Homo sapiens: one gene and its partners. The protein of the gene in region 1 purifies or fractionates together with the protein of each later gene. This does not show direct contact. Each region holds a gene or a part of one and is shown in the gene's direction. Other genes may lie near its edges.

The links.
Region 2: the proteins of VCAM1 (region 1) and INPPL1 purify together in Homo sapiens (affinity purification with mass spectrometry, with the first as the bait; one large-scale study listed by BioGRID). This does not show direct contact.
Region 3: the proteins of VCAM1 (region 1) and ANXA2 purify together in Homo sapiens (affinity purification with mass spectrometry, with the first as the bait; one large-scale study listed by BioGRID). This does not show direct contact.
Region 4: the proteins of VCAM1 (region 1) and TLN1 purify together in Homo sapiens (affinity purification with mass spectrometry; 2 studies listed by BioGRID and IntAct, with this or other methods). This does not show direct contact.
Region 5: the proteins of VCAM1 (region 1) and SEMA4D purify together in Homo sapiens (affinity purification with mass spectrometry; 2 studies listed by BioGRID and IntAct, with this or other methods). This does not show direct contact.
Region 6: the proteins of VCAM1 (region 1) and NAA15 purify together in Homo sapiens (affinity purification with mass spectrometry, with the first as the bait; one large-scale study listed by BioGRID). This does not show direct contact.
Region 7: the proteins of VCAM1 (region 1) and ITGB1 purify together in Homo sapiens (affinity purification with mass spectrometry; 2 studies listed by BioGRID and IntAct, with this or other methods). This does not show direct contact.

Annotation. Positions count from the first base shown.
Region 1 is NC_000001.11:100,722,742-100,726,241, forward strand, and holds part of VCAM1 (vascular cell adhesion protein 1 isoform a precursor), read left to right. Parts: intron 1-278; coding exon 279-599; intron 600-1,882; coding exon 1,883-2,149; intron 2,150-3,500. UniProt on the Homo sapiens protein: Cell adhesion glycoprotein predominantly expressed on the surface of endothelial cells that plays an important role in immune surveillance and inflammation.
Region 2 is NC_000011.10:72,227,767-72,231,266, forward strand, and holds part of INPPL1 (phosphatidylinositol 3,4,5-trisphosphate 5-phosphatase 2), read left to right. Parts: intron 1-423; coding exon 424-487; intron 488-581; coding exon 582-732; intron 733-960; coding exon 961-1,081; intron 1,082-1,241; coding exon of another isoform or gene 1,242-1,323; coding exon 1,324-1,464; intron 1,465-1,698; coding exon 1,699-1,792; intron 1,793-1,896; coding exon 1,897-1,986; intron 1,987-2,157; coding exon 2,158-2,253; intron 2,254-2,354; coding exon 2,355-2,505; intron 2,506-2,595; coding exon 2,596-2,702; intron 2,703-3,029; coding exon 3,030-3,132; intron 3,133-3,226; coding exon 3,227-3,423; intron 3,424-3,500. UniProt on the Homo sapiens protein: Phosphatidylinositol (PtdIns) phosphatase that specifically hydrolyzes the 5-phosphate of phosphatidylinositol-3,4,5-trisphosphate (PtdIns(3,4,5)P3) to produce PtdIns(3,4)P2, thereby negatively regulating the PI3K (phosphoinositide 3-kinase) pathways.
Region 3 is NC_000015.10:60,363,487-60,366,986, reverse strand, and holds part of ANXA2 (annexin A2), read left to right. Parts: intron 1-2,463; coding exon 2,464-2,558; intron 2,559-3,500. UniProt on the Homo sapiens protein: Calcium-regulated membrane-binding protein whose affinity for calcium is greatly enhanced by anionic phospholipids. It binds two calcium ions with high affinity. May be involved in heat-stress response.
Region 4 is NC_000009.12:35,722,196-35,725,695, reverse strand, and holds part of TLN1 (talin-1), read left to right. Parts: 5' UTR 1-1; coding exon 2-131; intron 132-374; coding exon 375-472; intron 473-736; coding exon 737-866; intron 867-971; coding exon 972-1,124; intron 1,125-1,361; coding exon 1,362-1,504; intron 1,505-1,616; coding exon 1,617-1,744; intron 1,745-2,774; coding exon 2,775-2,835; intron 2,836-3,472; coding exon 3,473-3,500. UniProt on the Homo sapiens protein: High molecular weight cytoskeletal protein concentrated at regions of cell-matrix and cell-cell contacts. Involved in connections of major cytoskeletal structures to the plasma membrane.
Region 5 is NC_000009.12:89,383,114-89,386,613, reverse strand, and holds part of SEMA4D (semaphorin-4D isoform 1 precursor), read left to right. Parts: intron 1-131; coding exon 132-247; intron 248-508; coding exon of another isoform or gene 509-667; exon of another isoform or gene 668-3,500. UniProt on the Homo sapiens protein: Cell surface receptor for PLXNB1 and PLXNB2 that plays an important role in cell-cell signaling. Regulates GABAergic synapse development. Promotes the development of inhibitory synapses in a PLXNB1-dependent manner.
Region 6 is NC_000004.12:139,308,005-139,311,504, forward strand, and holds part of NAA15 (N-alpha-acetyltransferase 15, NatA auxiliary subunit), read left to right. Parts: intron 1-3,500. UniProt on the Homo sapiens protein: Auxillary subunit of N-terminal acetyltransferase complexes which display alpha (N-terminal) acetyltransferase (NAT) activity. The NAT activity may be important for vascular, hematopoietic and neuronal growth and development.
Region 7 is NC_000010.11:32,920,231-32,923,730, reverse strand, and holds part of ITGB1 (integrin beta-1 isoform 1A precursor), read left to right. Parts: coding exon 1-146; intron 147-995; coding exon 996-1,091; intron 1,092-1,384; coding exon 1,385-1,474; intron 1,475-3,345; coding exon 3,346-3,486; intron 3,487-3,500.

The DNA of each region.
Region 1 (3,500 bases):
TCAATATAAACATTATTTTTTCTTCTTTCTTTTACTGTAATAACATGCAACTCTTAATATATACAGGATCAGAATTGAATAATGTTGTAAAAAATGTTTGCTTCCAATTCTTGTGCCTTGAACTCACCCCAAATCATGAAAGGCTATTCAAACAGTTCTGTCGTATTAAGACTGTATTAACAAAAACGCTAGACTTGATTTGTATTGTGTTAAAGTGGTAAGAGACCTTATATCACATTAGCAAAAAGCCCATCCATGTATTTGTTTGGCCTTTTCAGCTTTTCCTAAGGATCCAGAGATTCATTTGAGTGGCCCTCTGGAGGCTGGGAAGCCGATCACAGTCAAGTGTTCAGTTGCTGATGTATACCCATTTGACAGGCTGGAGATAGACTTACTGAAAGGAGATCATCTCATGAAGAGTCAGGAATTTCTGGAGGATGCAGACAGGAAGTCCCTGGAAACCAAGAGTTTGGAAGTAACCTTTACTCCTGTCATTGAGGATATTGGAAAAGTTCTTGTTTGCCGAGCTAAATTACACATTGATGAAATGGATTCTGTGCCCACAGTAAGGCAGGCTGTAAAAGAATTGCAAGTCTACAGTAAGTACTTGTGCGATGTGTTCCAGTCTTTGTGGGAATCCCACCTTGGTTGTGTATAGCAATAAACTTAGCAGAAAAGTAAAAAAAAAAAAAACTTGTATATAGTTTGTATTCCATTTGTATTCATTCACAACATAATGTTTGTCAATAGTATAATTCAGTGAAAAGAACACTGGATTTGGACTGAGAAGGCTTGAGCTTAATTTCTGGCTCTATTAACTGTGTGAGTTTGGGTTACTTAATTTCTCTATTTCCCAGTGTATAAAAGGGGAATAGTAATACCACCTGATTGGGTAGTGGGAAATAGGCTCAAATGATAAAACATTTTAATATTGTTTTGTAAACTCTTATAGTATGCCTTGAACTATTAGTTGCACAGGTACAGAAACTTGACAAGGTGATCACTTATTCTGTGTGTGTATGTGTGTGTGTGTATGCATATGCACATACATACATAGGTGCACTGGACAGGGGAAAAATGACGGGGTTTGATTGCCTCCAATCTCCCTGATACTGCCAGGGGATTTGTGGGAGTCTTGTAGTCCCAGCGTTGTGTAGGAGTGGCCTCACTGTGCTCTGTTCTGGACTAAAATGCTATGTTCTGCACTGGGTACCACATTTAAAGGGAGTATTGCCAACTACGGCATGTTTAGCTGAAAGAGAATGAGCTGGGAAGGCTTTTAACAATATTTTGAGAAGAATAGTCAAGATAGAGGATATTTTTCTGAAGAGAAAACAAAACCTGGCTGGAAAAGACATCTAATTAAGCATTTGAAAGACAGTTATATGAAAGAGTGATTTACCTTATTCTGTAACAGCACAGGGCTGAATTATGGCCAATATGTTTAAAATAGTATAGAGAGAAGATTTCAGCTCAATAGGGAGAAATGTGCTAATATGTAGAGCTGTCCAAAAATCAAATTGACTCTTTTGGAAAGCAGTGGGTTGATTCTCTCAGTAAATGTTGAAGCTGACTTGAATGGGCACTTGGCAAGAATGCTTAAATGGGACTCTTACCCTTAAGTGGGAGGTTAAGCCACATGGTTTTTCTTAATTTCTGAGTATCTACAACCATCTGAAAAATATGAAACATCAACTAAACTTGATCAGTTTAGTCAGAAACTGGATAGACTATTTTGAATGATTCAGCAGTTCTTTATACTAATTTGGCAGAGTAATTTCATCAAATTGGTGGAAGCACATAAATACTAAGAGAAATACATTACCTCTGTTGCACTGGGATGATGCTTAGCAATTGCTAATATTATTTTTTGCCCTTTCAGTATCACCCAAGAATACAGTTATTTCTGTGAATCCATCCACAAAGCTGCAAGAAGGTGGCTCTGTGACCATGACCTGTTCCAGCGAGGGTCTACCAGCTCCAGAGATTTTCTGGAGTAAGAAATTAGATAATGGGAATCTACAGCACCTTTCTGGAAATGCAACTCTCACCTTAATTGCTATGAGGATGGAAGATTCTGGAATTTATGTGTGTGAAGGAGTTAATTTGATTGGGAAAAACAGAAAAGAGGTGGAATTAATTGTTCAAGGTGAGTAGAATGTGAAAAAGGAATGATAAAGGTGCTGTCAGTGGGATTTGAGCAATAGTCAACACAGCTTCAATGCTGAAATTGCTTCCCTTAGTTTCACTGATGACCTATCTGATTGCCATATCCTTTAGCACAAATATATGTTTATCTTACTAGTACTCTGTGGAAGTCTTCCCTCCCAGAGTTTCCATGGCTCTGCTTTTCTGATTCTTTTTCATCTCATATCACTTTTTCTCTGCTTCATTCCCTCACTTTCTCTCTTCCTCCTTCCCCTTGGATATTGGTATTTTCAAGTTTACACCCCTGGGTCCTCTTCTGTTCTCACACTAGATTCCCAGGAATTGGACTACAATATGTTGATTACTCCCAAATTCATGTTCCAATTCCATGCTGTTAAATCCTGTCAGTTCTACCTCAAAATGCTCCCTGGAATATGACCTCTTCTTCACCCCACTTGCCATTGCCTTAGTTTATCATCTCTCACTTGGGCTCCTGCAAGATATTCTTACATAACAGCATTCGCTAAACACCAGATAGGTTTCTGGCACTTTCCATATGCCATCCTCAAGAAATAACTAAAAAGTAAGTATTTTGTATTCATTTTACAGATGAGAGAGTGGAATCTCCCAGAGATTAATAATGACACCACCTATTGATTGTACACCTAATATTTCCCAGGAATTCTGTATTCTGCTTTATATATTTTATCTCATTAATCTTTACCACAACACTATTAAAAACCCAGGCTCAGCATAGTTCATACTTTTCCTGGGGCTAAATAGCTCTTTAGTTGCATTTACTATGATTTTGATGCAGGTTCATTTTAATGAAAACCCCTTTGCCTTTTTAATTTTATAGCTAATTGTCTTTATTATTTCTTTTTTAAAATATTTTTAATTGATAAATCATGATTGTATACATTTATAGATTACAATGTGATGTTTGGTATAGGTATACAATGTAGAATGATTAAGTCAAGTCAACAAATCCATTGCCTCACTTGCTCTTTTGTGGTGATACATTTGAAATTCACTTTCTTAGCTATTTTTAAATATACAATATATTATCATTAACTATAGTCATCATGATGTACAATAGATCTAAACAACTTACTCTCCTGTCTAACTGAACCTTTGTATCCATTGACCAACATCTCCTTGTTCCCTTCCACTCCTCGCCCCAGCCTCTGGTAACCACCATTCTACTCTCTACTTCTATGACTTTAGAAGTAGATCCCACATATAAGTGAGATCAGGAGGTACTGGCTTCTCTGTGCCTGGCTTGTTTCACTTAGCATAGTGTCCTCTGGGTTCATCCCTTTTGTTGCAAATGACAGAATTTCCTCTTTTGT
Region 2 (3,500 bases), on another chromosome or scaffold:
GAGGCATACACACGTGTTAGCACGTTGCCCGTGTGTGCAAATGGGCTAACCAGGCTTCTGAAGACTCTTACTCTGGCGGGGAGCCCAGACTGGTACCACAGCCCAGAGGGGCTGTTTAGACAGCTGTGGAGGCCACAAAAGAGCTCCCTGTTGCTTCTCAGGCCCTGCCCTGTGGTGGGTGTGGAGTCTGTGTAGGTCTGGTGGGGAGACGGGGGTGTTCTGGTCATTCCTGCCCAATAGGCAACACCAGGAGGGTGGAAGTGGACCGGCCACATCATTAACCCTGTGCAGCCTGGGCAGGTGGTTTTAGGGAAACCAAGCTGAGGGGGTTGGGGTGCTGAGCTTGCTGGCAGGAGGAAGGGGTGCTTTGGGTCTTAGACCCCAGCCTGGGGGTGACAGATTCTGGCCCTGCCTTGGCATCAGGTATCAGAAGCATGTGCACACGTATCGCATTCTGCCTGATGGAGAAGATTTCTTGGCTGTGCAGGTAGGAGCTTGGGCCCCTGACCCCTGACCTTGATCCAGCCTAGGGCTTGGGGACCTGCTGGCTGACCCTTCCTCCCACCCTTGCTGGCCCACAGACCTCGCAGGGTGTGCCTGTGCGCCGCTTCCAGACCCTGGGTGAGCTCATCGGCCTGTACGCCCAGCCCAACCAGGGCCTTGTGTGCGCCCTGCTTCTTCCTGTAGAGGGTGAGCGAGAGCCGGACCCACCGGATGACCGGGATGCCTCAGGTACTTCCCAGTGTGCAGGTCCCCTCCCTGCCCCTGTCCCTTGGCTCTACCTGCCTCTTCCCATCCCCCCTTCTCAACCCCACCTCTCCTGTAACCCCCTTTCCCTTGGCCATGATGCCGGGGCCCTTTAACCCTCTTTCCATGGAAGTCACTTTACAGCTGCATCGTGCCTCCTACTCCACTGAGTGTGGGAGGCCCAAACGGCTGCCCACTGACCCCTGCCCACAGATGGGGAGGATGAGAAGCCCCCGCTGCCCCCGCGCTCTGGCTCCACCAGCATTTCTGCCCCCACTGGGCCCAGCAGTCCCCTGCCAGCTCCTGAGACTCCCACAGCTCCAGCTGCTGAGAGGTGAGACCCCCATCCCATCCACTGAACAGGAGACCCTTTCTCCTCTGAGAACTATTTCCCTACCAAAGGTGGGGAGGCCTTCTAAGACCCCACCAGGGACCCCCACCCCACCTCAGCCCAGAGGCAGATAACCTGATCCATCCCGCCCTGGTTGCCACAGGTACTATCTCCTCTAGGGATGGGGCAGAGGTGCTGGGACAGGTCAGCAGGACCTCCACTGACTTCTTAACCCCTCCCCAAAGTGCTCCCAATGGGCTGAGCACCGTCTCGCACGACTACCTGAAAGGCAGCTATGGGCTGGACCTGGAAGCTGTGAGGGGTGGAGCCAGCCACCTGCCCCACCTCACCCGTACCCTCGCTACCTCATGCCGGAGGCTGCACAGGTATCTGGGACATCCAGCCCCATGTATTACACCCTTACCTCTGACCTGTCCTCACCTGCTTCCCGGCTGCACAGGTGCCCTGATCTCTGATCCTGAACAGTGAACTAGCCATTGCCTCTTGACTTTCCTCACTGGTAGCCTTTATCCTTGTGGTGAGGTTGAGGCTACACCCAGCGCCCCCTTCCCTATACTTAGGTCGGGGTGGGAGTTCTTTTGATCTGATGTCTTCCCTAGTGAGGTGGACAAGGTCCTGTCAGGCCTGGAGATCCTGTCCAAGGTGTTTGACCAGCAGAGCTCGCCCATGGTGACCCGCCTTTTGCAGCAGCAGGTAGATTGTAGGGAGACCTCTGGGAGGTGCGTTCGTGTTCTGGAGCTGGGTGGGAGGCTCTGCTTAGGTGACTCATGTACAAGCCTGGTTCTTCCTCCCCCCAGAACCTGCCACAGACAGGGGAGCAGGAACTAGAGAGCCTGGTGCTGAAGCTGTCAGTGCTAAAGGACTTCCTGTCAGGCATCCAGAAGAAGGTGGCATGATCTCTGACCCTTGACCCCCGATTCACTGGCCACTGTCATTGGCCTAGCACTGATCTCAACCCTCAGTCTACAACTTAACATTGGCCCCAAGGTCAATTGTGTCCCTCCCTGCCCCAGCCTTCAGTGTGTCCCCTGACCCCGCCCTGCCCTTGTTCCCTCCAGGCCCTGAAGGCCCTACAGGACATGAGCTCCACAGCACCCCCAGCTCCGCAGCCATCCACACGTAAGGCCAAGACCATCCCCGTGCAGGCCTTTGAGGTACATGGCAGTGGGGCCTCACAGGGCCAAGGGTGGTTGGAGGTGACCAGGGTGCTGCCTACTCCAAGGTCTTGTCAGCAGCCTCCCCACCTGGCCTACAGGTGAAGCTAGATGTGACCCTGGGTGACCTGACCAAGATTGGGAAGTCACAGAAGTTCACGCTGAGCGTGGATGTGGAGGGTGGGCGGCTGGTGCTGCTGCGGAGACAGCGGGACTCCCAGGAGGACTGGACCACCTTCACGCACGACCGCAGTGAGCCAGGGCCAGACCTGGGAGGGGTGGGCAGGGCGGAGCCCCTGGCCTAGGGGCACAGGCCCATGTGACCGGTCCTCCATGCCCTAGTCCGCCAGCTCATTAAGTCCCAGCGTGTCCAGAACAAGCTGGGTGTTGTGTTTGAGAAGGAGAAGGACCGGACTCAGCGCAAGGACTTCATCTTTGTCAGTGCCCGGGTGAGCAGCAGGCTGGGCCAGGCCACTGGGGACTGCGGGGGTCCCCCACATGGGTGCTTCCCATTGGAGGGTAAGAAAGGGAACACATGATGTAGGCATGCCATCCCTCCTGGCAGGGGTAGGTCTGACAGGGTAGAGGGTGTTGAGAACGGGTGGCCTGAGGGTGGATAACATTTGCCAGCACTGTTATATGCTTGAGCAGTGGGTATGCAGTGGAGAACCAGACAGACCCTCTCCTCATGGACATGAGCCAACTGGCAGGGTATCCCTGTGGACGGGGGGCTTCCTGGATGCCTACCCGCCCCTGAGTGGCTGCTGTTCCCCCAGAAGCGGGAGGCCTTCTGCCAGCTGTTGCAGCTCATGAAGAACAAGCACTCCAAGCAGGACGAGCCCGACATGATCTCAGTCTTCATAGGCACCTGGAACATGGGTCAGGCCCGGGCTGGGGCTGGGGCGGGAGAGAGGGATGGCCCCAGAGCAGGTGCCTAACCCCTCCAGACCCACCTCACCCCCTTCACCTCCAGGAAGTGTACCACCTCCAAAAAACGTGACATCCTGGTTCACATCGAAGGGTCTGGGGAAGACCCTGGACGAGGTCACAGTGACCATACCCCATGACATCTATGTCTTTGGGACCCAGGAGAACTCAGTGGGCGACCGCGAGTGGCTGGACCTACTGCGCGGGGGCCTCAAGGAGCTTACGGATCTGGATTACCGCCCGGTGAGGGGGGGTCATCTTGTCCAGGACCCTGTCCTCACACACCACCTCCAAACTAGCCTACTTGACTTCATGGGCAA
Region 3 (3,500 bases), on another chromosome or scaffold:
GGGCTGACCCCCCCACCTCCCTCCCGGACGGGGCGGCTGGCCGGGCAGAGGGGTCCTCACTTCCCAGTAGGGGCGGCCGGGCAGAGGCGCCCCTCACCTCCCGGACGGGGCGGCCGGCCGGGCGGGGGGCTGACCCCCCCACCTCCCTCCCGGACGGGGCGGCTGGCCGACCCCCCCCCCCCCCGCCTCCCTCCCGGACGGGGCGGCTGGCCGGGCAGAGGGGCTCCTCACTTCCCAGTAGGGGCGGCCGGGCAGAGGAGCCCCTCACCTCCCGGACGGGGCGGCTGGCCGGGCGGGGGGCTGACCCCCCCCACCTCCCTCCCGGACGGGGTGGCTGCCGGGCGGAGACGCTCCTCACTTCCCAGACGGGGTGGTTGCCGGACGGAGGGGCTCCTCACTTCTCAGACGGGGCGGTTGCCAGGCAGAGGGTTTCCTCACTTCTCAGACGGAGCGGCCGGGCAGAGACGCTCCTCATCTCCCAGACAGGGTCGCGGCCGGGCAGAGGCGCTCCTCACATCCCAGACAGGGCGGTGGGGCAGAGGTGCTCCCCACATCTCAGACGATGGGCGGCCGCGCAGAGATGCTCCTCACTTCCTAGATGGGATGGCGGCGGGGAAGAGGCGCTCCTCACTTTCCAGACTGGGCAGCCAGGCAGAGGGGCTCCTCATATCCCAGACGATGGGCGGCCAGGCAGAGACGCTCCTCACTTCCCAGACGGGGTGGCGGCCGGGCAGAGGCTGCAATCTGGGCTCTTTGGGAGGCCAAGGCAGGCGGCTGGGAGGTGGTTGTAGCGAGCCGAGATCACGCCACTGCACTCCAGCCTGGGCACCATTGAGCACTGAGTGAACGAGACTCCATCTGCAATCCCAGCACCTCGGGAGGCCGAGGCTGGCGGATCACTCGCGGTTAGGAGCTGGAGACCAGCCCGGCCAACACAGCGAAACCCCGTCTCCACCAAAAAAAAACGAAAACCAGTCAGGCGTGGCGGCGCGCGCCTGCAATCGCAGGCACTCGGCAGGCTGAGGCAGGAGAATCAGGCAGGGAGGTTGCAGTGAGCCGAGATGGCAGCAGTACCGTCCAGCTTTGGCTCGGCATCAGAGGGAGACCGTGGAGGGAGAGGGAGGGGGAGGGGGAGGGGGAGAGGGAGAGGGAGAGGGAGACTCAGCAGCAATTGGATTTCTATGTTTACCTTGGCTACTCTAAAAATGAGAGCTAAAGTTATAGATGCTACAGTTAAGATAGCAAGCATATTGGTATGGACTTGCTTTGAAATGAGCATATACATTTTAAAAAGTTATTTATTTTTATACCCAGAAATTCTAACTTTATACTTTTTGATCTAACACACTTGAGAATTCAAAATACTTCCTCTGTCAATCTGCTGTTTGTCTTTGTCTCAAGCGTTACAGTTTTGACCTTTCTGTTTCTTCAGGACTCCTCTGATTTTCTTCAGGCCAAGCCATTTGTAGTTTGCAAGTGACTTTGTAGGTTTAGCAACTCTACTCTCTCACCCAAGAGTTACCTATCCAGTTATGGCAAAGACTGTTTCTTTCATTAAACAAAGTTATTAATCAGTCAGGAGAGAGACTTTTCACATTCTGAATTTACAAACTGTGCTTTCTTAAGTTAAATGGCATGTTAGGAGTATTTCTGATATGAAATTGGAAACTTGCAGACACCAGAAGGCATTGCTTATCTTTGTAAATACACATGTTCCAATTAAAATAGGTACTAAAATATTTTGGTGGCACCTCAAAACTCCCAATTTAGATTTAATTTAGATTAAAACACTTACTCTTTTTAATAAAGTTATAAAATTAATTATTAAAATTGCCTATTGAAGATTAAAGGCAGTGGAACGTTTATTTTCCTTACAAAACAATTTTGTCTTCAATAAGTGTGATTGTGTTAATCAATTATGCTATTAAAAATACAACTGCCGTGTTAAATCTGACTCATTTGTCATGACAGTTTTTATAATTATAGAAATTATACCTAGCTGCTTATATAGCCATAATCCTGCAATAAGTATAAATAATTATCTCTATTAATTCAGTTTGCAGTTACTCTCTATTAAATCCCGAGTTAAATGGCAATTTGGGGACCTTCATTTAAAATCCTACTAAATCTCTGTTGTTCCATCTGACTGCCAAAGCCCCACATATGCACCTCCTACTGTTGATTCCAGAAACCAATTTATGAATAAAATAGTTTTTAAACCACAAGTATTTAAAAGGTCCATTTAAGCTTGAGGTTTGAGGCTCTCAAGAAAAAAGGAAAGAGAGTGTACACATTGGGTAGAGGATGCTGACGAAAGAGATAGAACAAATCTTGGTGTCTGGGTATTTCAGTTTGGAAAACAGTATATAAATTTCAGTTTGAAAAAGTCTGCTTGACACCTTCTATGTAAGCCCAAAATACTAGAGTATACTGAGTAACGATTAACAACTTGTATTTCCATAGGTGTGGATGAGGTCACCATTGTCAACATTTTGACCAACCGCAGCAATGCACAGAGACAGGATATTGCCTTCGCCTACCAGAGAAGGACCAAAAAGGTACAGGCAATTCCAGGGATGGAGGGCATTTCTTGTTGAATTTTTGTTTCCTCAGACATTGCTTTTTCTTTTCATGAATTGTGGCTCTCATGCGCAAAAGACTTGTGGGACCCTTGGATATCTAAGATTTTCTTCTTAAATCCTTGTAAGAGTCACTGCACATGTGTGTGTGCGTGTGTGCACGCGCGCGTGCACCTCAGGTCATCAGGCATTAGGTTCTCATAAGGAGTGTACAACATAGATCCCTCGCGTGTGCAGTTCACAGTAGGGTTCGCGCTTCTGTGAGAATCTCATGCCACCGTTGATCTGAGAGGAGGCAGAGCGCAGATGGTCACGCTCGCTTTAGAGTGCTTGGGAGCTCCTGTGTAAGGACAGTACCCTCCCCCAACCCAGGCTACCTGGAGGGAGAGCTTCTGGGAATAGAAAGTTAGGAATAGGGAACAACAACAATAACAACAACAGGCACCATTTATTGAGTGCTTACTTTGGGCCAGGCACTGTGCTCAGTTTTGTACATGTAGCAACTCATTTCATCTTTATGACTTCTGCTGGTTCTTGATAAGATGTTTCTAATTTAATTTTAGGATACTAGCCTCCACTGAGTGTTGATCCTAACAAGCTCCTCTCATTTTAAAAATATACACTTGAATTCTTAAGCTTTTTGCAACGAGTGGGCTTAGTTGTTAGTTCATTTGGTCTGCAAAGCTATCTTCAACATGCCATGCTCCTACTATTTAAAGGGTCTTTGTGTGCTTTTTCCCTTTGCTTGTCCACTAGTGGTTAAGAAACAACCAGTGCGTGTTCGTCCTTTATTTTGTCAGTTGTAGGAAATTTTATTTTTAAGGACGTGCTGCTTTATTTTTAACTTCTTGCTATTAAAAGCTTTTGATTTATTCTTGGACAGTGCAGTAAGTGTGGCTTCCTGCAGCTCCCGTTTGACTT
Region 4 (3,500 bases), on another chromosome or scaffold:
CATGGTTGCACTTTCACTGAAGATCAGCATTGGGAATGTGGTGAAGACGATGCAGTTTGAGCCGTCTACCATGGTGTACGACGCCTGCCGCATCATTCGTGAGCGGATCCCAGAGGCCCCAGCTGGTCCTCGTGAGTCTGACTCCCCCGGTGGCTGGAGTGGGAGTCTTCAGTCCCTTCTTGTTCCCAGGCTCTCGGCCTTGAGAGTTGACCCCTTTGTCCCCTAAGACTACTCACCCCTCAGGTCTGTGTTCCATGGTTCCCTCGTTCTTTAGGCCCAAGGTCATGGGAGAAATAGTCAGGGGCAACATGGTACAAGCTGTTCAGCCACATTGGGGTCTTCATAAGCCTAAAGTGATCCATCCTCTCTTTTAGCCAGCGACTTTGGGCTCTTTCTGTCAGATGATGACCCCAAAAAGGGTATATGGCTGGAGGCTGGGAAAGCTTTGGACTACTACATGCTCCGAAATGGGGTAAGTATCCTTTCATCAAGGACCACCACATCCCCTTCCATCAGCTTCTCCCTGTTCCACCTCCTGTTTTCAGCACCCACATCTGTTGTCTCTTAGCCCTCCCCATGCTTTCTTCCTATTAACAGACAGTCATAATTCCCTGCTTTTGAACGAACCACCATAGTCTTCCTTTCAGTGCTCCACTCTCTCCCCTCGGGCTGTGTAAAGAGGAAATAATACCCCTAGCTCAGAGTAGGCCCCTGTCTCTTCTTCCTGCCCTAACAGGACACTATGGAGTACAGGAAGAAACAGAGACCCCTGAAGATCCGTATGCTGGATGGAACTGTGAAGACGATCATGGTGGATGACTCTAAGACTGTCACTGACATGCTCATGACCATCTGTGCCCGCATTGGTAAGGGGCCCTAGTACAGTTGAAAGCCTGGGCCAGAAAGCCTCAACTCTCTCAAAAGGCATGGATGCAGTACCTGGGAAGCTAACAAGCCATCTCCTTCCTCAGGCATCACCAATCATGATGAATATTCATTGGTTCGAGAGCTGATGGAAGAGAAAAAGGAGGAAATAACAGGGACCTTAAGAAAGGACAAGACATTGCTGCGAGATGAAAAGAAGATGGAGAAACTAAAGCAGAAATTGCACACAGATGATGAGTGTAAGCAGAACTAGAAAAAAGAGGGCTTTTGAAATGGGAAGGGTGGGAAGGGGCTTCAGCATCTGCTTCTGCCAGGCACTGTTTTACACCCTGGGGATACATCAGTGAGAAAACAAAGTCCTACACTCATGGGACTTACATTTAAGTGAGGGGAGGTAGGAAATGCAGAAATAAACAGAGACCAGACAGCACAGGGGCCATGGGGGTTTGGCACTGAGGGGACTGTCTGTATCCCAGTGAACTGGCTGGACCATGGTCGGACACTGAGGGAGCAGGGTGTAGAGGAGCACGAGACGCTGCTGCTGCGGAGGAAGTTCTTTTACTCAGACCAGAATGTGGATTCCCGGGACCCTGTACAGCTGAACCTCCTGTATGTGCAGGTATGCAGAGGACTTGGCTGGGGTGGGGCAGGAATAGGGAGGGCTCGGAAGCACAGTGTGCGTGTCCTTGCACCCACACACAACATTCGCCTCCTTGCCCTGTGCTCTCCAGGCACGAGATGACATCCTGAATGGCTCCCACCCTGTCTCCTTTGACAAGGCCTGTGAGTTTGCTGGCTTCCAATGCCAGATCCAGTTTGGGCCCCACAATGAGCAGAAGCACAAGGCTGGCTTCCTTGAGTGAGTGACCCACATCCTATACCCTGTCAGGGCCCAGGACTCCCTGCCATTGTGACCCCAGTGGGCCTGTCTCCATTCCAAGCCTGCCCCCCACTATTTCTTCTTCCGAGGTACCAGGGTTTGACCAACATAGCTACCCTTTTAGTTGCCATCATCCATTGTCTCTTCTCTGCCTCTGGAATATGAATGTAGTTCAGTATCTCTGCCCCTACCCCCATCTCTGAAGCAAGCATGTCACTCTTTTTTGAGATTATCTGAAGAATTTTGCTGCAGTAGCCAGAGGGAAACCGGGTAAAATTTTCCCTATAGGGAACATGGGTTAAAAGTCTCACAAGCCTCATCTGCTGGTGTTTCTTGGAATGCAGAGTTTGGCGTGGCTTTCTCAGCTTCCTAAGTGCATGTTCATCCTTCTAGAAAGCTCTTTCTCCTCTTGGTTCCCTGAAATGGTGCTCTAGACCCACTTTCCCTCAGGGACTGAGCCTCTAACTTAATTTTCCTCAGTCCCTTTCCCTACAGGGAGAGACACAGGTCACATTAAGAATTCATACTGGCCAGGCTCGGTGGCTCACACCTGTAATCCCAGCACTTTGGGAGGCCAGGGCGGGCAGATCACCTGAGGTCGGGAGTTCGAGACCAGCCTGACCAACGTGGAGAAACCATGTATCTCTACTAAAAATACAAAATTAGCCAGGCGTGGTGGCACATGCCTGTAATCCCAGCTACTCGGGAGGCTGAGGCAGGAGAATCACTTGAACCTGGGAGGTGGAGGTTTTGGTGAGCTGAGATCGTGCCATTGCACTCCAGCCTGGGCAACAAGAGTGAAACTCCATCTCAAAAAAAAAAAAGAAGAGTTTACACGAAGTCACCTCTATTTCAGAAGATAATCTAGACTCTATTCCCTCAGAGTCTTTTTTCTCCCCAAAGATAACACTGTCCTAGGTATTTCCTCATACCCCCAGGCCCACAGTTCATGGCCCACATGTCCCCTGATGCTGTCTACCACATGCTGACCCTCCCTTTTCTGGTGTAGCCTGAAGGACTTCCTGCCCAAGGAGTATGTGAAGCAGAAGGGAGAGCGTAAGATCTTCCAGGTGAATGTGGGTAGGGGAAAGTATTTGGGATGACCGCGGAGCTTTGCTGCTTAATCTTACTGACTAAATGGCCCCCTGCCTCCTCCCCGTCTCCCCTAACTTGGCTTTCACCCACCGGGCTGTTATCCCACCTCACCTCTGCCAAGAAAGCAGACAGCTTGGGCTTTTAGTCTCAGCTCCATCCCTGCTTTTGCTGTGCAATTCAGTTCAATATTCTTGTAATCTTTTATTTACCTCTGATTTGGGATAACAGTACTTGCCCCGTGTAGGACTGATAGGATCAAATGAGGTAGCATAATCTGAAATTACTGTGAAAGAGTATAGTCTTTGTCCACTATAAGGTGTTACCCCCACTCTGAATACTCAGCCCAGAAGGCCTTCTCTTTGCCCTTCTACTTCCAAACTCTCTGTTCATATCTCCAGAATGTCTGCAAGTTCCTTGACTGTATCCCTTGACTCATCGCTTCTGCATAGCCCTTATCAGCCTCCATCCCGTTACCCTCTCGTTCTCATATCTTGTACTCCTCAACCTTTCCAGTGTCCCCATAATTCTCTCTCGTTAGAGTTAGCATCCAACCTTAATTCCTTAGCTGTGATATGAAACTCTTTGCTAAATTCTTCCCCATTTTATGCACAGGCACACAAGAATTGTGGGCAGATGAGTG
Region 5 (3,500 bases), on another chromosome or scaffold:
CATCATTGTTTTCTAAGTATCTGTGGAGGGAATGACTTGAGAGTGAAGAGTGTGAAGTTTGCCGCTGTGGTCACTGTCCTTGGTTTCTGTGTCTGGGTTAGTGTCACTGACCTGTAGCTTTGGCCCTGCAGACCGGGGAGCTCTGCACAAAGCCATCAGCCTCGAGCACGCTGTTCACATCATCGAGGAGACCCAGCTCTTCCAGGACTTTGAGCCAGTCCAGACCCTGCTGCTGTCTTCAAAGAAGGTAAAGTGACGCAGGCAGCTGGACCGGGGGCTTCTCCGCTCGGTGGCTTTGATTCTAGGTGACAGGAGAGTTGGCAAGCTGGAGTCGGGCTCCTGGGCAGGCCCCTCTGTCTGTCTGCCCTGGGTGAGCCAACCTTCAGAGTTTGACACAGAGCCATTCCGTGAGCTGTGGGATCTGAATTGGGGAAGGCAGGAAGGCAGACCTGGGGAGACGGGACTTTCTCTTCGAAGTTGCTGGAATGTCATTGAGTTGTTGGTGCAGCTTTACAGGCTGTGGAGAGGTGGGCACTGCTCCATGAAGACACCTTTTTATGCCCTGAGCTTGGGGGGTGTGCAGACTGCATCTGTGGGATATGATAGTGATACAGCTGACTCGTCACCGTGGAAAATCCACAAGAGAAGTGGTTCGTCTCATCTGTAAAGCTGTCTCCACCTGTGGCTGAGACTCTGGTCTGGCCTGCAATACTCCCAAGCAGCCCTTGGCAGGGGTGGGTGGGCGGGCATCCACGCTGGCCTTTAGGGGGCTGCCTCCCTGGCCCTGGCTCCTAACGGGACCTCCAACCACCTTGTGGGATCCAGGCCCAGTCAGTCCTCTCCTCCCTCAGCTGGGAGCAACAGGCAGAGGAAGAGGGCCCCTGTCTGGCCGGGTAAGATACCTACCCTTGGCAGGTGCGTATTTGCAAACACCCCTCCAGGTCTTCTGTCCTCTTCCCTCCCCTGTATCCACAAAGCTTGGGAGCCTGGGTCCTTTTACGTGGTCACCTCCCCTCTGCTAATGGAGAGTTCTCCCTCAGATCTGAAAGGAAAAGAGAATGAAATAGCCTGAGCAAGTTATAAGCCACTGGGTACTGGCATCTGTTCACCAGCCTCTCGGTCTCCAGGACACAAAGGGAGCCCTGGAGATTTGAAGGGTCGACGCTTTAGCCACTGTGGGGCCTCACCCCAGCCTCGTTGTTGAAAGAAGGGGACCCAGAAGCTCTTCTGGGGCCATCGTGCTGTTCAGTGGCCTCAGCCAGACTGGGCAGGCACCTACAACATCTCTAAAATGTGGACTTCTCATTAGAATGAAGATTGGGCCCCTGGTGTGGACATTCGTGAGAATGACACTCTGTTCCAAGGGTCACTTAGGGACCCAGGCTGGTGGAGGCTTCCAGGGCACATGGGCACTGATCCTCAAAGGCAGAAGGGGGTAGGAAGAGGAGGGCCGCACAGAGGGGGTTACGGGTCAGTGCCCACCCGCCATCTCCCAGAACTCGGTCACATGGCCACACCAGGGCAGCTGGCCACACAGGGAGCCTCGCGCCCAGGAGGAGGAGCCAGTGGGTTTGGGGAAGCGCTTGCTGGTCCTACTGGACCACCCGACCCGCCTGTCTCTGTAGGAGCCTCCATTCGTGGGGACGTGGCTTAGTTGCCTGGACAAGCGGAAATACATCCTGCCTGCCGTGGGGTCCTGTGCCTTCTCCTTGGGCCTCAGTAGGCTCCAGGTGGGGGTGGAAGGCCCAGCTCCATGGCCATGGCAGCAGGAAGTGGCTGTTCAGTGGTAAAAAGACTGTGCCGCCTGACCCCATCAGGCTCTCTCACGGTGATCAGCAAATGGAGAAACGGCCAGTACCACGCCCTCCCCCTGTCCTACAGCTGGGGAGGTGCGCTGTGCCTCCACCCTCACCTCCTCTCCCCTGATGACAAGCATGGGGTTTTGCTTTTTATTTTGGTAAATACACATCAGATGAAATTTGCCGTCTTAACCATTTTTCATTGTGCACGTCAGTGGCATTAAGAACATTCACGTTGTTTTGCAGCCATTACCACTGTCTGTCTGCAGGGTGCTTTTCATCTTCCCAAACAGAAGCTTTTTACCTGTGAAATACAAACTCTTCATTTTCCCCTCCTCCAGCCCTGGGCAGCCGCCATTCTGCTTTCTGTTTCTGTCTGGGTACCTCATATGAGTGGAATCACACAGTATTTATCCATTTGTAACTGGCTTATTTCACTTAACATAAAGTCCTCAAGGTTCCTCCCTGCTGTAGCAGGGGTCAGGGTTTTCCAAGGCTACATACTCCTCTGTCGTATGTGAATACCGCATTTTGTGAGTCCCGCATTTTGTGTGTGCGTTCATCCCTTGATGGACACGGTTGCTCCCACCTTCTGGCTTCTGTGAACAGTGCTGCTGTGAACGTGGGTGTGCAGATACCTCAAGTCCTTGCTTTCCATTCCTTGGGCGCACACAGCAGATGCGGTTTGCTCGGCCCTCTCTGAGCCCACCGAGTAGGCTGTGTCTGTATTTTCACCAGGACTCCTTGGGATGCTGAGCTACAGCTAGCGTGGCAGAGGGCAAGGAAGGCACTTAGACAGCTCAGTTGCCTCTGATCACGTCCACCGTCACTCCAACCTGCCCTCGGGGTCTGACGCGCACACACAGCAGCAGAGACAGAGATGGGAGCATGAGAGCTGCCTGCAAGGGGACAATCCTCAGGCCCAGGGAAGGCGGAGACAGGGGGCGTCGAGGGGCAGGAGTGCACAGGACAGGCTTGCTCTCAGCGGGCCTCACTCATGCTGCCAGGTGCCTGGTCAGGCTTTTTTTCTTTGCCTTTAAAAATTTTGTCTTGAAATAATTTTAAATTTACAGAAGAGTTTTGATGATTGCACAGAAGGATCTTGAGCGCCCCCACCTAGCTCCACATGTCCGATGTCTCACATAGCCAGTGTGCATTTATCTGAGCCAAGGTGCTGTCATGGTGCAGTGCGTTACCTGAACCCCAGACCCTGGACCCTCCTACCTCCCGCCCACCACATTCCTGGCTCAGCACCTCAGGTTGCACTGGACACTGCATCTCCTCGGCTTCTGCTCTGTTCCTGCCTCCCTGACCTCAGCACTCCTGGAGAGGAGTAGTCTGGTGTTTTGTGGTGTGTCTGGTGTATTCTTGTGATTATCTTGGGGTCGTGGTTTTAGGGGGAGCACCAAAGAGGGCGCTTTCTGGGGATGGGGCATCTGTATGACTCGCACCAGCGTGATGACCTTGGTCATTCTGTCCAAGTCACCACCGTCTTTTTCCATGTCGAGTGTGTCGGGGCATGTAGTCCACACTGGGGGTGGGGGAGAGTGAGCCCCACCTCCCAGGGGAGTCATGTGGGAAACCCCCACAGTCATTCATGCTTATTTGCAGGGACAGACTTGGAGGCTACAGAAATGCCCTGTTCTCCCACCCACTGACATCCACATCGACCAGTGGGTCCTGCCTGCAGCAGTTACAGCT
Region 6 (3,500 bases), on another chromosome or scaffold:
AGGCTGGAGTGTAGTGGTGCAATCTCGGCTCATTGCATGCTCTGCCTCCCGGGTTCACGCCATTCTCCTGCCTCAGCCTCCTGAGTAGCTGAGACTACAGGCACCTGCCACCACACCCAGCTAATTTTTTGTATTTTTAGTAGAGACGGGGTTTCACCGTGTTAGCCAGGATGGTCTCGATCTCCTGACCTCCTGATCTGCCCGCCTTGGCCTCCCTAAGTGCTAGGATTACAGGCATGAACCACCGCGCCCGGCCCATTGTATAATAGGTAAATTATTTTATGTGATTTATTTTCTTTGGGAAAGTTAATGTTTCTGCTAGTTAATGATACTTAGTTTAGCTTCAGTTGCTGATGAAATTTAGATTAGGAATTGTTAGCAAGTAGGTGTCCATATGCACATGAAAGTTTAACTGATTAATTTCTTTGTGACAGAATTCCAGTTTTGCAACTAAGAGTGGACAGTAACTTTGAAATTGGTTTTAATATACTTTTGCTTGTACTTCATATATTTAGAATATAACAAAAAATCAAAAAATGGAAACAAAGTTTGGTCTGTTCTGAAATCCCATTCAGCTCTTAGTAGTTAATCATAAGTTTATTTATTTTTTTGAGATGGAGTCTCACTTTTGTCGTCCAGGCTGGAGTACAGTGGCGTGATCTCAGCTCACTGCACTCTCCGACTCACTGCAACCTCCACCTCCCAGGTTCAAGTGATTCTCCTGCCTCAGCCTCCCCAGTAGCTGGGATTACAGGTGTCCACCACCACACCCAGCTAAGTTTTATATTTTTAGTACAGACAGGGTTTCGCCATGTTGGCGAGGCTGGTCTCAGACTGCTTACCTCGGGTGATCCACCCACCTCAGCCTCTCCCAAGTGCTGGGATTACAGGCGTGAGCCACCGCACCCTGCCGGTAATCGTAAATTTAAACTCGGATAAATTATCCCTTAAAAGTATACCAGAAAACAAAATGCAGTTTTGCTATTTTATATATGTGTATATAATGTGTATATAATTATTATAAAAATTACAAAATGATTTTTCTGTAAAAATCGAGTGAGGGCCGGGCACAGTGGCTCACGCCTGTAATCCCAGCACTTTGGGAGGCTGAGGCGGGTGGATCACCTGAGGTCAGGAGTTAGAGACCAGCCTGGCCAACATGGTGAAACCCCGTCTTTACTAAAAATACGAAACTTAGCTGGGCGTGGTTGCAGGCACCTGTAATCCCAGCTACTTGGGAGGCTGAGGCGGGAGAATTATTTGAACCCAGGAGGTGGAGGTTGCAGTGAGCCGAGATCGCGCCATTGCTCTCCAGCCTGGGGGACAAGAGTGAAACTTCGTCTCAAAAAAAAAAAAAAAAATCTAGTGAGAAGTGAAAATCTTTTAATAATGTGGTAAATTTATTCTTTGCTTGCTTTTTAAGTGTGTGTGTGTGTGTGTGTGTGTGTGTGTGTGTGTGTGTGTGTCCAGGATTTCACTGTGTTGCCCAGGCTAGTCCTGAGCTCAGGTGATCCTCCTGCTTCAGCCTGCCAAGTAGCTGAGATTATGGTACATGCTACTGCGCCTGGCCTGTTTGCTTACTTTTTAATTTTTGTCTTTCTGGAGTGAGATGCAGTATGAATGAACAAATATATGTTTTTGTTTTAAACTGACAGCATATATTTTTAAAATTCTGTATTGTGTTAGAAACCTGAAATGTTTTAAAAAATATTTTTTAAAAATTCTTTTGCGTCAATAGAGTGGGTTAAAAATACTTGTTTGTGCAGAGTGACCACAGTTCAGTTTTCAATAGTAGTAGATGGACAACACTATATTTTCAGAAAAGCAGACTAAAGCTTAAAAGGGAACTGAATTTAATGTTCCATTTTTTAGATGTGTCAAAGTCTTGCAGTCCTGGGTCATTATTGGGGCTCAAACTAGTTATTTGATGATAATAGAATTGCCATCCAAACTATTGGAGCGCTGGTTAATGAACAGTTTCCAGAGGGGCGGGCATGGTGCTCGGTGTGATTGGGGGACTGGAGAGATACTGTCCAGCTGGCCTCAACTGAAGGGATCCCTCTCCTTAGTGTGCAGTCTTATATCTTTTAATATTTCTGCTTCTGACAATGAAGTTCTGACAGAGCATTGATTCAAATATATCTTCTTTCTTCATAAAAACATTTTTGGGCCGGGCGCGGTGGCTCACGCCTGTAATCCCAGCACTTTGGGAGGCCGAGGCGGGCGGATCACGAGGTCAGGAGATCGAGACCATCCTGGCTAAAACGGTGAAACCCTGTCTCTACTAAAAATACAAAAAATTAGCCGGGCGTAGTGGCGGGCGCCTGTAGTCCCAGCTACTTGGGAGGCTGAGGCAGGAGAATGGCGTGAACCCAGGAGGCGGAGCTTGCAGTGAGCCGAGATCCCGCCACTGCACTCCAGCCTGGGCGACAGAGCGAGACTCCGTCTCAAAAAAAAAAAAAAAACATTTTTGGACATAAAAAGCTATGTCGTATAAAGGATCATATGCAAAGGACTGTTCAGAATTTTCTCCCCCAGATACCTGTGTGACTCATTTTTCTTATTTGTTTTAGGACTTCTGCTCAGATGTCCTTTATTTTTAATTTTAAATTTATTTTTATTATTATTTTTTGAGACAGGGTTTTGCTCTGTCACTCAGCCTAGCATGCAGTGGCACAATTTTAGTTTACTTCAGCCTCTGCCTCCTGGGTTCAAGTGATTCTCCTGCCTCAGCTTCCTGAGTAGCTGGGATTCCAGGTGCCTCCTACCACACCTGGCTAATTTTTGTATTTTTAGTACAGGCGGGGTTTCACCATGTTGGCCAGGCTGGTCTTGAACTCCAGGCCTCAGGTGATCCACCTGCCTCGGCCTCCCAAAATGCTGGAATTACAGGTGTGAGCCATTATGCCTGGCCTAATTTAAAAAATTTTGAGACAGAGTCTTACTCTGTTGCCCAGGCTGGAGGGCTGGAGTGCAGTAGTGTGATCTCGGCTCACTGCAACCTCTGTCTCCTGGGTTCAAGCGATTCTCCCACCTTAGTCTTCTGGGTAGCTGGGACTACAGGCACATGCCACCATGCCTGGCTAAACAGGTGTCCTTTAAATGTTATTTAGAGACCTTCCTTGGCTAGCAGTCAGTCCTTCTCACCTTATTTTCTTATTTCTTACTTTATTCTCATTTATCAGCTTCTGACATACATTTACTTTTATGTTTATCACGTTTTCCACAATTAAAATGTAGGGTTTATGAAGATAAGGACGTCTGTTAATGGCTCTATTCACATTGGTTAAAATGATGTACCATAGTAGATGTTTAATAAATATTTGTTATGTGAAGTGAGTGTGAAAATAGTGATTACAGGGCAAGAGAGAAAAAGATCTTTGGATTGTGTGCTTGCATAAATTTTTGGAGAAGGGAGTTAAGCTGGGCTTTGGCATTACAGAGTACATTAGTGTATGAAATAATTGTAGGATATTGGGCAGAGCCTATATTATGGTAAG
Region 7 (3,500 bases), on another chromosome or scaffold:
GCTGGAGGAATGTTACACGGCTGCTGGTGTTTTCCACAGATGCCGGGTTTCACTTTGCTGGAGATGGGAAACTTGGTGGCATTGTTTTACCAAATGATGGACAATGTCACCTGGAAAATAATATGTACACAATGAGCCATTATTATGTAAGTGCCTGGTTCCTTACATAGTGAATGTGTTTATGTTGGATTTTAATGTTTAATACTAAGAGCTTGTGGGTGACTGGCTTGGGGTTTCTCAGGGTTTGAGGTTTTGCTGTTTTGGTAAGTAGGGGTCCTGATTGAAAGTGCAGGAAAGCTAGTGTTGCTGTTTGTGAAGATGCAGCTTTGTATTTGCTTCCTTCTGCTCAGACAAGGGCCTCACTGGGGTGGGAAAGGGATGCCCAGATGCCACTTTCACTCTTTGCCTCAACTCCCCGCCCACAGCATTTGGTAGCACAGTCAGTACTCTTTCTAAATAAATAATTTATCTAGTCTCATACTCTTTGTTTTATACGATTTTTAAAAGCAGTCACTCTGCCTTTATTGAAAATAAATATTGGCAAAGCATTCAAGTTCTAGAAGAAATCCAAATGGTAAATCTTGGTCTTTTTCTTAAGTTGTAGATAATAGAATATTTAATTACTGACTATTCTTTAATTTCATTGTCCTTATATTTAATATACATAGATAAACTTACTATTTAAAACCTTTTGAATATGGAATTTTTTATTCATACATGAAAGTAAAGAGAAGAGGATTAGCAATTCATGTATACACACGACTCACTTCAGCAGTTTATATTTGATACTGTTATTTGAAAGCAGTCTTGTAATCTAGTTATATGTATGCAACTAGATGTAATCTAGCTATATATGGATTATATATGTAATCTAGTTATCTAAAGCAGTCTTGTAATCGAGTTATGTGTAATCTTGCATGTATAACTAGATTGAAAAATTAGAAGAGATTATAAGGGTGTATTTAAATACTAAATTATATTACTTGATTTCTTAGGATTATCCTTCTATTGCTCACCTTGTCCAGAAACTGAGTGAAAATAATATTCAGACAATTTTTGCAGTTACTGAAGAATTTCAGCCTGTTTACAAGGTAAATGTGTGAGATAAAAAGAACAAGATTCTAAACATTTTTGATTGTTAGAGGCAAATCATGTCTGAATTGAAATGTGGGAAAATGCCACCAGATAGGCAAACCGAATTTTACAAAAGTGGTTTATATTAATTTTTAATCACATATTATAAAACTGGTTTCTAGGTTTGACTCCTAAAGTTAGTTAGGAGGAAACATGGGAACTGGCATTTAAAGATAAAAGTTGCTCAGTGGATCCTAATTGGTTGAATGAATAGCAGTTGTATTTTACGTGTTTTATCTTTTAATTGCAGGAGCTGAAAAACTTGATCCCTAAGTCAGCAGTAGGAACATTATCTGCAAATTCTAGCAATGTAATTCAGTTGATCATTGATGCATACAATGTGAGTACATCTTAAATAAGATCAGTTTTGGACAATACCCTGTTGAGAATACTTTGTACAAAGAAAGTAAAACTTCCTTCATACACACTTTAGCGAGCCCAAAGTACTACAGAAAAACTTAAATTCTGTATGTATCTAGAGGAAAAACTTTATACATATTGTCTTACAAAAGCAAGATTCATGGCCTAAACAAAGTGAAAATGTGATAAAGGCATGTGGGGAGTATTTCCAAATAACTGTTTGTTTATCATTAAGGAATAGATCTCCTTGTTAGAAAGCAATTGTAAAACATAACTTACATTTAAACTTACAGGATTTCTCCAATCTTTTTCCTCCCCAAAATATCCTTTATAGAGTCATCTATTCTGATGAATTGTGCTAGAAAAGTTTTTTTTTTTGCCAATTCTTCTCTTCCCATATATTCAGAGGATATGGGTTTCTATTTCAGGAGGTACACACTCATATATACGTATACCATAAAATATATAAAAATGTAAATATACATGTGATTTGCCTATTTCAAAAAGATTTATAGTGTTGTTTTCCCCTCACAGATGGGAGGAAGTTGAATTGAAATTAAAGAGGAATTGGCTTATCCTTTTTGAGCATAATTCAGTGTACTTTAATCACACCGAGTTAGCCTTCATTAATAATCATTTAAATAATCTGAAGGCGGTTGTAATTTGGTAGGTAACCCTTGTGTGTCTCGTGCACCACTTTCAGCCCCCATCCCCCTAACCCTTTGGCAGCTTGAATTTTAGACATTTTTACTTCATGTCATGGGGGTACCATAACGCTTTGGAAAGGCCAGCCTACCATATGAGGCTTCCCTTTTTTATGGGGTACCATAATGGTTTGGAAAGGCCTGACTTGGAGGGGTTTTTATAAAGGTTTTTAATATTTTACTTGTTCCACAGCTTTTCCCATTCTCCCCTGTCTTAGATAATTTTCCTAACTCTTGTTCTTTCAGGGGTGTGAACAAGAGATAGCTTGCCATTGTACCCTTCTCCATTTGTCCTGAATAGTCTCATATGTTAAACAAGCCCTGGCTTGAATCCTTCCTTCTTGGGGGATTTTGTTTTTTTTTTTTTTTGGCTGGGCTACAATGGTTCCTTAAGCAAATTTGTTCCTAGACTGCATAGTTGATTGTTTACCCTAGTCCATAGTTAGCTGGAGAGGTAGGACTACAGAAATGCCATTTTGCCGATGGGGAAGACAGCATTTATTTCGTTTTTTTTTGGGGGGTTTCTGTTTTTGTTTTTGTTTTTGTTTTTTAGATGGAGTCGCACTCTGTTGCTCAGGCTGGAGTGCAGTGGTGTGATCTTGGCTCACTGCAACCCCTGCCTCCCGGGTTCAGGCGATTCTTCTGTCTCAGCCTCCCGAGTAGCTGGGATTACAGGTGCACACTGCCATGCTTGGATAAATTTTTTTTTTTTTTTGTATTTTAGCGGAGATGGGGTTTCACTGTGTTGGCCAGGCTGGTCTCCAACTCCTGAGCTCAGGCAGTCCACCTACCTTGGCCTCCCAAAGTGCTGGGATTACAGGTGTGAGCTACCACACCCGGCCTATTCCACATTTTTAAGACTCCTCCTAATTAGTAACAGCCCTCTGCACTGTGTGATCCTGAGTATTTTAACTCAGTGATTAAAACAGGAATACTCTTTTCAATTGTGTATTTTATTTTAAAGATTTGATCCTTATTAATTAAAACCTGTTTCTCTGGCCTCTGTGTTTTCTAGTTACTCAATTGGATTTGGCTTGTAGATACTTTATTGAAATATATTTTTTTCTGAGCAGTTTATCCATTGGTTTTATGCATTCAAGTAGCATTTTGTTTGACTTTTCCTGTGTATAATTAGGCATTCTTTTAGTCCCTTTCCTCAGAAGTCATTTTGGAAAACGGCAAATTGTCAGAAGGCGTAACAATAAGTTACAAATCTTACTGCAAGAACGGGGTGAATGGAACAGGGGAAAATGGAAGAAAATGTTCCAATATTTCCATTGGAGATGAGGTATGTTGTATAAA